Regions from separate parts of the Homo sapiens genome. Here all the other regions are reported to be linked to region 1. The links are microRNA targets in miRTarBase. Many come from high-throughput screens and were not tested one by one. Region 1 holds a microRNA gene; each other region holds the end of a gene's coding sequence. Distances are between the middles of the regions.

Region 1 (3,081 bases):
CCTCATTCAGATTTTATTAGTTTTTGCAAGTATGCATCTGTGCGGGGCAGTGGGGGATAGGTCTATGCAGTTTTATCACAGCTAGAGATTCACGTACCTGCCACCACACACGTGCTCTCTTACCTCTGAGGTGGGTGCTACCCCCATTCTAAAGAGGAAGGAGTGAAGGCGGGTGAGAGGAGGGAGCCTGCCCGAGGGCATAGGAGGAGCAGGCATGGCGCCCACGCCCTGCTCTACAGCCCACACTCTTTCCCTGCTCTCAGTTGGATTTTCAGTGCGGGATGCATGGCCAACCTCTACCCAGCAAGGCCCTCTTACCCCGGCCGAGTTTCCTCGGAACTCGCGGAGCCGCCGTCGGAGCTGCAGGCAGTGCTCCAGGTCCTGGCCCAGGTCACCAACATTCATCTTCACCTCCTGTGAAGGCCGAGGGTGGGGAGGGAGCGCTGTGAGCACCAGCCCAGGCTCCTGGCACCTGCTGCTGGGGATCCCTCCTGTCAAGGGAGGGCTCCTCCCCCCATCTCTCAGCCCCCACCCAGCTGGGGCTACACCTTCTCCTGGATCCAGGCCTCTGCAAGGTCCACTCTCTGCAGGAACTCCAGGAAGTTCCGCCTGTCCTCCAGCTCCTGGCCCCTGAGGGCCATTGCCTGCCTCAGGTCCTCCCAGTGCTTCCGCAGGCCCTGCAGCCGCTGGGAGACCTCTCCGGCTCGAGGGTGACTCTGTGCCAGGAGAGCCTCTCCCTTCTGGAGGGAGAGAGGGGACACAGGACATCTTGCCTGCTGCACTTCCTCCTAAGACTGACATTGCCCCTGGGCCACACTTTGGGGCAGGCATGGGGCTGAGGGCCCGGTTGTTACCTTGGCAACAGAGGTCATGACCTCCTCATGGGCCTGGACTTCAGCCTCAAAGGCCTGGTGTTTCAGCAGGGGCTTCAGCTTATCTCTCAGGTCCCCAGGAGGGACCGGCTCCTTCAGCTGCTGGGCCCACGCCTGGATCCAGTCCTCAGCCTGGTGGGGGTGGGACATGAATGCTGCAATGTTCTGCAGCCTCAGGCCCCAGACGCCACAGGCCTAGCCCCCAGCCATTCCCAGGAGGCTGGCCTCAGGGGTGGGGCGGGCAGCACCTGGTAAATGAGCCCTGAAGGTTCCAGCTCCGGAAGGTTGCTGCAGGAGGCAGCCGGGCAGGGCCTTGGGTGGGCTCTCGTTTTGGAGGTGTGGCCCCTACTCCTGGGGCCCTGGGCTGCTCTGCTCCCTTCCCCACCTCTCTTGCCCTGGCGCTGCTAGAGCTCGGGACACTGGTGAGGTCTCCACACAAAGGGGCTTAGATCCCATGTTCTGGGCTCCAGCACAGCCTCTGGGAAAGCCATCCACCCCCGAACCTGTTTCCGCCTCACAGTGTTGCGGTGTGAAGGCGGCTGAAAACTGTCGAGTGTGGTTCCAGTGGAAGGCCCTGGGCTGGGGGTGCCCTCTGACCTGGGTTGCGGCCTGGGTGAAGCTGGCCATCAGCAGGGAGGCATGCAGGGCGTGTCCCCGGCTCTCCGCCAGCTCCTTCACTCTCATCCGGCGCTGCAGCAGGATGGGAAGCCGGTCCCGCACCCGGGGGCGCCGGAGCGTCTTCAGCCGCTCACGCAGGGCTGCCTCCTGTGGGGCAGGGGCACAGCTGCTGCTCTCCCACCCTGGGCTGGGGCAGGGCCTGGCCTGCAGGGCTCACAGTCCTTTCTTTGAGGGCCCCGGAGCCCTTTCCTCAGCCCCACATGGCTGAGGGGTATCTGATCCTCCCAGCCACAAGCCAGACCAGTCTGCTCCCCAAGGACCACACGGTGTGGACAGAGCCAAATGCCCCGTGTGGGTCTCTGCAGTGTGGCCCATCTCCCCCTGGGCCCTCTTCTTGAGCCACACATACAACTTGCTCAGTCAACCCCAACCAGGACCCCAGCCTTGCAGGCTCATCAGCACTGCCTCCAGGAACACACCAAGCGCCCCGTGACCCCCTTCAGGACTCTCTCCCAACCACCACACTCTGACCACGCCCAGGCCTCCTGACTCCATTACCTTCTTGTCCTGGGCAGTCAGAACCTTCAGGAAGACCTCGTGCTTGCGAATCAACTGCTCTACCTCTTCCACCGAGCTCCCCAAGGCACTGGTTTTCAGGGAGACCTGGATCCACAGAAAAGTCAGAGGCCACCAAGCCTTCCAGCCAGCCAGCCCCTCCAGCTGCAGTCTGTGCCCATGGGCACTCTGGGTATGGCAGGGCCTTAGGAGTGCCCACTGAGCTTGGCATGGAGCTGTGAGGAGTGGGAGTCCAGGTTGGGAGGCTGCGATACCTCAACCTCTGCACCATGTGGGGAGCATGACCAGCCTCTGGCCAACTTCCTCGGGGCTCAGTCTGGGATAGGGGCTGGGGATGTCAGTGGACGCTCAGGGGCCTCAGCACTTCACCATGGCCACCTGGAAGGACTTGTGCACAGCTGCCTCATATTAGAGAAAAAGCCAGAGAGGCAGGAGGAAAGGGACTGAGCAGAGAGGAGAATAGAAAGGAGGAGCAGGAGGCTGAGCGGAGTGTGAGGGCGGGAGGGGACCTGCCTCCTGGGCCGCGAGGATCTCCTCCAGGCGGCCGCACTCTCTGAGGAAGAGCTGCTCCTGCTGCTCGGCCTGCAGCCTCTCTTGCTTCCGTGCCCAGGTCTGATACACCTGGTCCCGCTGGTCCTGCAGGGCTCGAAGCTCTTCCTGGACCTGGGGATGGACACATGAGGAGCCTCAGCTGGGGAGGGTGGTGTGGGTGAGGTGAGGACTGGATCCTGAGGGAAGCTCCTGAGGAGAGGCCAGCATGGCACAGTAGGACGGGGCACCAGGTGGCCAGGCACAGGCTTGGTCAGCTAGGGTATGTGGGGGCACCAGGGGAGGGGGCCCACCTCCTTGGTGGGTGTCCCTGCAGCAAGAAGTGCCTGCTGCCCCAGCTGGGTGGCCTGCTGCCACAGCTTCTCCCGGGCCTCCAGCTCCGCCCGGAGCCACTGGTGGGCACTGAGCTTCAGCGGGCCACTGCTAGGCTCTTGCGAACTCTCCTCCACCTGCAGGTCCTGGCGCA
Region 2 (3,081 bases), not on the chromosome of region 1:
TCCCTCTGGGTTCTGGTTGGGCTTGGCCTGTAGGAGGCGCTAGTGGGAGACAGGGGGCAGGCCAGAGAGAGAGGGCAGATGGACTCTGCCACCTCCTCCCAGCTGGACAACAGGGGTGGTGGCTGCGTTCCCCCGCCAAGGCCCTCTCTCAGCAGCTCCCTGGAGTCTGCGTCTGCCCTTTCCCTTCTCCCAAGACGGGGTGGGGGGGGTGGCACTCCCACTGCTGCTGTCCTGGGATGCCTCTCCAGCCACTGGGCTCCCTTCACCCTGCCCACAGCATGGGGAGAGGCCGTCGTGAAACTCTCCTTAGCCACTCACCTCAATACCCAGCAGACGCCCCTTTCCTCCTGGTGCCCTGAAGGCTGCGATGGCCCCCTGAATCAGGAGCCCAGCTGATCGGACGAGGTGCACTTTGGCACCTCAAAGCTGGGAGCCAGGCCCTGGAGAGGCCCACTCCTTCCACCCGAGGACCGCCCATATTCCCATAGGGTGTGCAAGGGTGGACAGCAGGCGTTGCTCTGGCACGCCGCCCTTTTGGCTACTTTGTGATCAAAGCCAGCCTATTTTGACATTTCATGTCTTCAGTTTTATTTTTATTTATTTTAAAATATTCTTGCAGAAATGGTTTACATGGAGGCTTTGTTTTTAAACAGCCCTTTGGCTGACCTCCTTCCATCACTGTCTAGAAAACATTTCAGATTTCCACATGGAAACAGAGCCCAGGGCCCCAGAAACCCTCACCCTTGCTTCATCCAATCCATCTGCCACCGAAGGTCTCCTCAGCTCTGGGCTCTTGTTCCTTTGGTAGCACCCAGAGGCCCCACTCTGTCTGGCCCTCCAGGGTCAACTCACTTCTCCCACACCTTGTAATCCCAGCACTTTGGGAGGCTGAGGCGGGCGGATCACCTGAGGTCAGGAGTTCAAGACCAGCCTGGTCAACATGGTGAAACCCTGTTTCTACTAAAAATACAAAAATTAGTCAGGCGTGGTGGCGAGTGCCTGTAATCCCAGCTACTTGAGAGGCTAAGGCAGGAGAATCTCTTGAACCCGGGAGGTGGAGGTTGCAGTGAGCCAAGATCTCAGCATTGCACTCCAGCCTGGACGACAAGAGCGAGACTCCGTCTCAAAAAAAAAAAAAAAAAAAAAAAAAAGCTATGAGAGGCAGGTCTGGGAGCAAAGCAGATCCCTACCTACAGAAGCTCAAGAGGCTCAGGGGTTTCCGTCCTCAGAACCCAAGGATGTCAGAGGCCCCTCTGGTCCCCAGGGGCGGGGGGTGTTAAGGAGGAACCCAGGGGCTGGTCCTGGAGAGGAAGCCTGGATCCGGCGGGAGACCGGAGCTGCCCAGGGCCTCTGGGGCAACACCAGGGCCTGTGCCTGGCCGGGCCCGACTCCTGACTTCTAGCCCCATGTCCCAGGGCGGAGCCTGTGACAGGAGGGACACGCCATTGGGCACCCAGGGAGAGTCCTTCATTGTCTCCTTAGCTGCAAAGGTGGGTGCCTCATTCAGGATGAGGGAGAAGCCACTCGGAGCCTGAGCCAGCCGGAGTCGGGCTGCATGCTGGCAGGGGCCCATCGGATGCTACCCCTCACCCTCAGGAGGCTGCCACCAATGCACCCAAGAGTCGTCCCCTGGTGGGAAATTCCATTCTAATGAAGAGCCTTTGTTCTGACACACAGAGACGGAGGCAATCCCTTCTGAGAGCAAAACTGCTCACCTCCCTGGGACCCTCCAGCCCCGCCCCACGCCCTGCCTCCCTCCTTCCTGGTGCCTCTGTGGGCACCGCCCTCTGGGTGCAAGAGATGGGTGGGGGCCTCCTTTGTCCACAGAAGCAGAAACACAGCACCAACATGCAAAGCCTGAGTGGGGACCCAAAGCCCACACAGCCAGCCCCGTGTGTGGTGGACGCGGAGCTTGAAGCCCAGAGAGGGGAGGTGGCTGGCCACAGTTACGCTGCCGTGAGCTGGGCAGAAGCAGGCCCACGAGGACCTGGTGCTGATCCCATCTCCGGGGCCTGCCTTCCCCAGCAGCCTCAGCTTTCTGGGACGCTCCGTGTTCACCCCACATTCATGCAACTGCTCCAAAAGCCCCTGCTGGGGTCCAGGGGCAGGAGTGGGGCTCGCAAGCTCTGGGAATGCTGGCCCGGCCCCCGGCTCCCCTCTCTGAGGTCTCGGGAACCCCAGGGGCAGCAGAGCTTCCTGTCCCTGTTATGCCAGCGTCTGGCACTCAGGCCCTTGTCACTGCTCAGCTCAGAGTTTAGTGTGGTGGCCACAGAGACCAAGGCTGTGTCCTCCAAGCCATGCCGTCTGATCACCCCTGGTGGCCTGAGCGCAGCTTGGAAGGAATGGTAGCTCCGAGTGAACAAATAAGCGAAAATGAAAGGGGCCGTTCCACAGGCTGATGAGGGGCCGCTGTGGGGACTCCTCCCCGGGGACCCTGGCCCTGGTTTAGTGCTCCTGGGTGGGGCCGGAGGGCTGGGTCCACTTGGAGACATCCAGGAAGACGGTGGAGGCCCCGTGGTAGAGCCAGAGCCGGGGCAGGGCGCCGTGGCGGGTCCAGGTGTCCCGAACCGTGTCGTAGGCCTCCATCTCCACGTGGTAGTCACCTTCCATGCCCTGCCAGCGGCCGCCCGTCACGTACAGCGCATCACCCAGTGGCACCAGCGCGCCATTCTCATGCAGGCTGTGCTGTGACTGCACCTGTGCACGGTCAGCGGGTTAGCGTCCGGTGGGCGGGAGCTGGAGAGCAGGGCTGAGGGTGCCCTCAGCAGGGTCGGGGGAGTGGCAGAGAGGACAGCCAGCCACCTGGCCCAGATCCCCTCCAGGGCATGAGCGCAGAGTCCCTGGGCAGCCCACCGCAGCCCCTCCAGCCTCCTCAGACTCTTCTTTTGGTGGGGAGGTCCCTTTCCCTCTCTGACCCTCAGCCCTTGGGATGACACTTCCAACCCCTGCAGTCAGAGGGGGCCCTGAGGCCTCCCGGGGAGGTCCGGGCTGACTCGAGGCCTCACTGAGGCTTCGCTGTCTCACAGGAGACAGGTGTGGCTCAGCCCTGGCAGACAATCAGGAAAAGCCTAGACAAGCCCA
Region 3 (3,081 bases), 31 Mb from region 1:
GTGTCTTTTGAAAGTTGTAGGAAACTTGGGGAGTTTGGAAGACTTGGAGATTTAGTCCTAACCAATATCTTCCCTTCCCTTAGCCAATTTTAGCTACCATATTTTGTTTACAGTACTTTTACAGTTGACAGAGATTTTAAGGACGTGAATAAAGAACCCATGAAATTATTTCTGAACCTGTTTATCTGCAGAACTGTGGGATTGAATTATGATTTCTAAGGTCCATCAGAACTTGTAACACTTTATTGCTTTAAAATTAATTCCCATGGAATCATGGCTTTCAGAAAATACCATTTTAATATTAGAAGCAGTTTGATGTGTCTGTACATCTAGACCTGAACATGTGCCTATTAAAATAAAAAATAGGTGCTTGGTTCCGAGTCTGGATAAACTATAGGGATGCCTTAAAAATAAGTAAATGCCTCTTTTTTTATTATTAGAGGCTGACAACAAGTTTTTTTTTTTTTCTCTTTGATTACAGATACTGTGAGAGTCGACGAAGGGTTTTGTTACAGCATGTGCATGAAGGCTATGAAAAAGATCTGTGGGAGTACATTGAGGACTGAGAATGGCCCTGCATAAAATGAACTCTGAAAACTTTACCATCTAGAGTGCTCATGCAATTAAAACAAAACAAACACAAACAAGGAGGCACTAAGCCTATTCTGACACCACTGGTCTGTAGTACCAGAATTGTTTTGTTAATGGAAAGTTTAAGTAAATTATATTGTAATAAAAAGGTAGATAAACCATTGTACAACAGTATTCTAGGCCACCAACAAAAGTGTGACAGACACACTAAAAGCCCTCCAACTTTAACTTGTAACGTAGCTTCATTCTCAAAGCTGACTCCTTTTTTTTCTTTTTCCTTTTCCTGAGTGTAGTACAGTTAAAATTTCAAACAGCTCCTTGACACTGCTTTTCATGTTCAAACCAGCCATTTTGTTGTACTTTGGTAAAGGACCTCTTCCCCTTCCTCCCCTACACATACAGATACACCCACACACAGACTGACTCTCTTTCTCTCATACCCCAAGGTCATGAGTGAATGATGCTTAGTTCCTTGTAAAGAAAATCTTGGGATGGGGAAAGGGGTAGGCAGCAAGAGGATTCAACAAACGAAAAACATAAAAACTTTGTATATGACTTTTAAAACAAGAGGACAACACAGTATTTTTCAAAATTGTATATAGCGCATATGCATGGACAAAGCAAGCGTGGCACGTGTTTGCATAATGTTTAATTACAAAAAAATATTTATTCTTTAAAAATCTTCAAGATTATGTCTATTTGCTGTGCATTTTCTTTCAGTTTGCTTATCTTTCCCGGGTTGGGGTTGGGATAAAGGTGTGTCGGTTTAGCACCTCTGGAAGACCTATCTAGAGCTCTTTCACTTTCCTGAGGTTATTTTGCCCTTTCTGGTGTTGGTATGTCTGTTGCCGGCCATGGGCCTCATGCCTTGAATTCCTGCTCTTGATCAGGGACAAGGGAGGTCAAGCTCTGACTAATGCCATGACCTGATTAAGGGGTACAGCAGGGAGTTTTGTTGCTACAGCTCATGAATTAACCTGTCCCAACCTAATCCCCCTCCATGGCATCATGCCTCTACCCAAGCCTTTGTGTGCCCATGTTATGCACACAGCTGTAGGCATTCTTAAGTCCCCTGTCGCATCCAGTGGAAGCATTTTAAAATTTCTTTTACTTTTTGGTTTTCCCTTAATTGCTGCTTTTCAGATTTTAGTTATGGCTCGTCTGCTCACCCCTTCTCTACATTAGGGTGTCAAAGAGAATGTTTTGCTTTAAATATAAATAGCCATTCATTTAGTCTCAGATTGTGAATTTAAAATGGTGGATACCGAAATTGCTTGTGTGTGTTGCTGTGGGTTTGGTTTGAAGGCAAACACCCCTAGAACATGATATTCCCATCTAGTGCATTTAAATAGAAATCACTGAGTTTGCTGCTTTTTTATTGTCAGCAGATAGGAGAATTAATAATGCATTTTAGCTGTGATGTCCATTTTTATGAAATTCCTACTAAGAGCTATGTTAAAAGTAAAGGATGGTGGTGGTTGTATTAACTATATACCTGTTTAGGCCATTCTGGCTGTGGTATTTTTCAATAGGTCAGCATCTGTAAATCTGTCAGTTTTATACAGGAGTGCAGAGTGAACTAGGCAACTAGATTAAGAGGTCTAAATATGAAATACCAGTTGAGGCTGAGGACCTCTTCGTCTTCCTTTAAATGTCTTTTGCCTAGGGAGTGTTTACCATTTGTGAGGCAGCTTTGTCTGCTCTTACACTGTACATCCTATTACTCCATTGGGAAGTAGGTTCACTTTCCTCTGGCCTTTTGCCTAAGTTAGGCTTTGCTGAATCAACCCTACTTTTCCTTTTAGAAAAGGTTGTTACAGGAGATTTACTGGCAACTGTTCTTTTCCCATCAAAAATCAGTGAATGTTTGCTGAGTATAAATGCTGCTTCCTTAAACCACTTGTCGCTTTAGGATCAACTTTACCTGTACCTTTTCTCCTTTCCTCCCTTGCCACCTCAGGTGCAAATCTGAACTCAGTGTCTGCTTCTTCCATTTTCTCGTCTCTCTCCCCTCTTCCCCCATTATCCATATGACATTATTTTACTTCAAATGACAGCATCAATCTTAAAAAGATATACATTAAAACTAAGGAGTTTTTTTAAAGAAAGCCTGAATAAGTTCCTTTCCCTGGTAACTTTGAAAAGCAGTCAGAGTTGCTATATAGATATATGTGGCTCCTTTAAAATGCTTTGTGTATGTGTGGTGTTTAAAAAAAAAAAATCTTACCAGTTAACTTTGCAGTGTCTAGGTTTGAGTGTCATAAATCCACGTGTTCCTGTTGCAACAAATACCCAAAAATTGTGTGTGCACTTCCTAATACCAGTCTTCACCCATGGAGGAACAGTGCTTTTTAGAGATGCTTTCTATTTCAATGTTGGCATACTGCCTGAGGGTATTGCAGTTGTGGGTGCATTCCCTAATTTGTATGATCAAGATGAACTGGCCCTTTTCTACTTCCAAGCTTTTAACAGATACCACCATATTTGACA

The links. Region 1 holds the annotated microRNA hsa-miR-4310 (GCAGCAUUCAUGUCCC, at 1,016-1,031, opposite strand). A microRNA usually pairs through its seed, bases 2 to 8, with sites in the 3' UTR of a target mRNA and lowers its output. Matches are read on the target gene's strand: a 7mer-m8 pairs with bases 2 to 8, a 7mer-A1 pairs with bases 2 to 7 and ends in A, and an 8mer does both.
Region 2: the mRNA of KLHL30 is a reported target of hsa-miR-4310. Seed matches in the 3' UTR shown: 8mer at 1,080-1,087.
Region 3: miRTarBase lists ARIH1 as a target of hsa-miR-4310. Seed matches in the 3' UTR shown: 7mer-m8 at 2,471-2,477.

Annotation. Positions count from the first base shown.
Region 1 is chr15:41,865,490-41,868,570 of GRCh38, forward strand. It overlaps MIR4310 (microRNA 4310), which reads right to left and starts at 1,062; the gene lies at 1,006-1,062. SPTBN5 (spectrin beta, non-erythrocytic 5) reads right to left here. Exons shown (of 68, transcript NM_016642.4): 33 at 2,909-3,081; 34 at 2,580-2,729; 35 at 2,049-2,153; 36 at 1,470-1,637; 37 at 855-1,004; 38 at 549-740; 39 at 319-414.
Region 2 is chr2:238,150,430-238,153,510 of GRCh38, reverse strand. KLHL30 (kelch like family member 30) reads right to left here. Exons shown (of 8, transcript NM_198582.4): 8 at 564-2,697. The coding sequence ends at 2,446. Among named protein-coding and RNA genes, the nearest start is that of ERFE, 7.0 kb to the left of the region's middle. RefSeq lists an enhancer at 1-229.
Region 3 is chr15:72,582,727-72,585,807 of GRCh38, forward strand. It overlaps ARIH1 (ariadne RBR E3 ubiquitin protein ligase 1), which reads left to right. Exons shown (of 14, transcript NM_005744.5): 14 at 482-3,081. The coding sequence ends at 566. Among named protein-coding and RNA genes, the nearest start is that of MIR630, 3.0 kb to the right of the region's middle.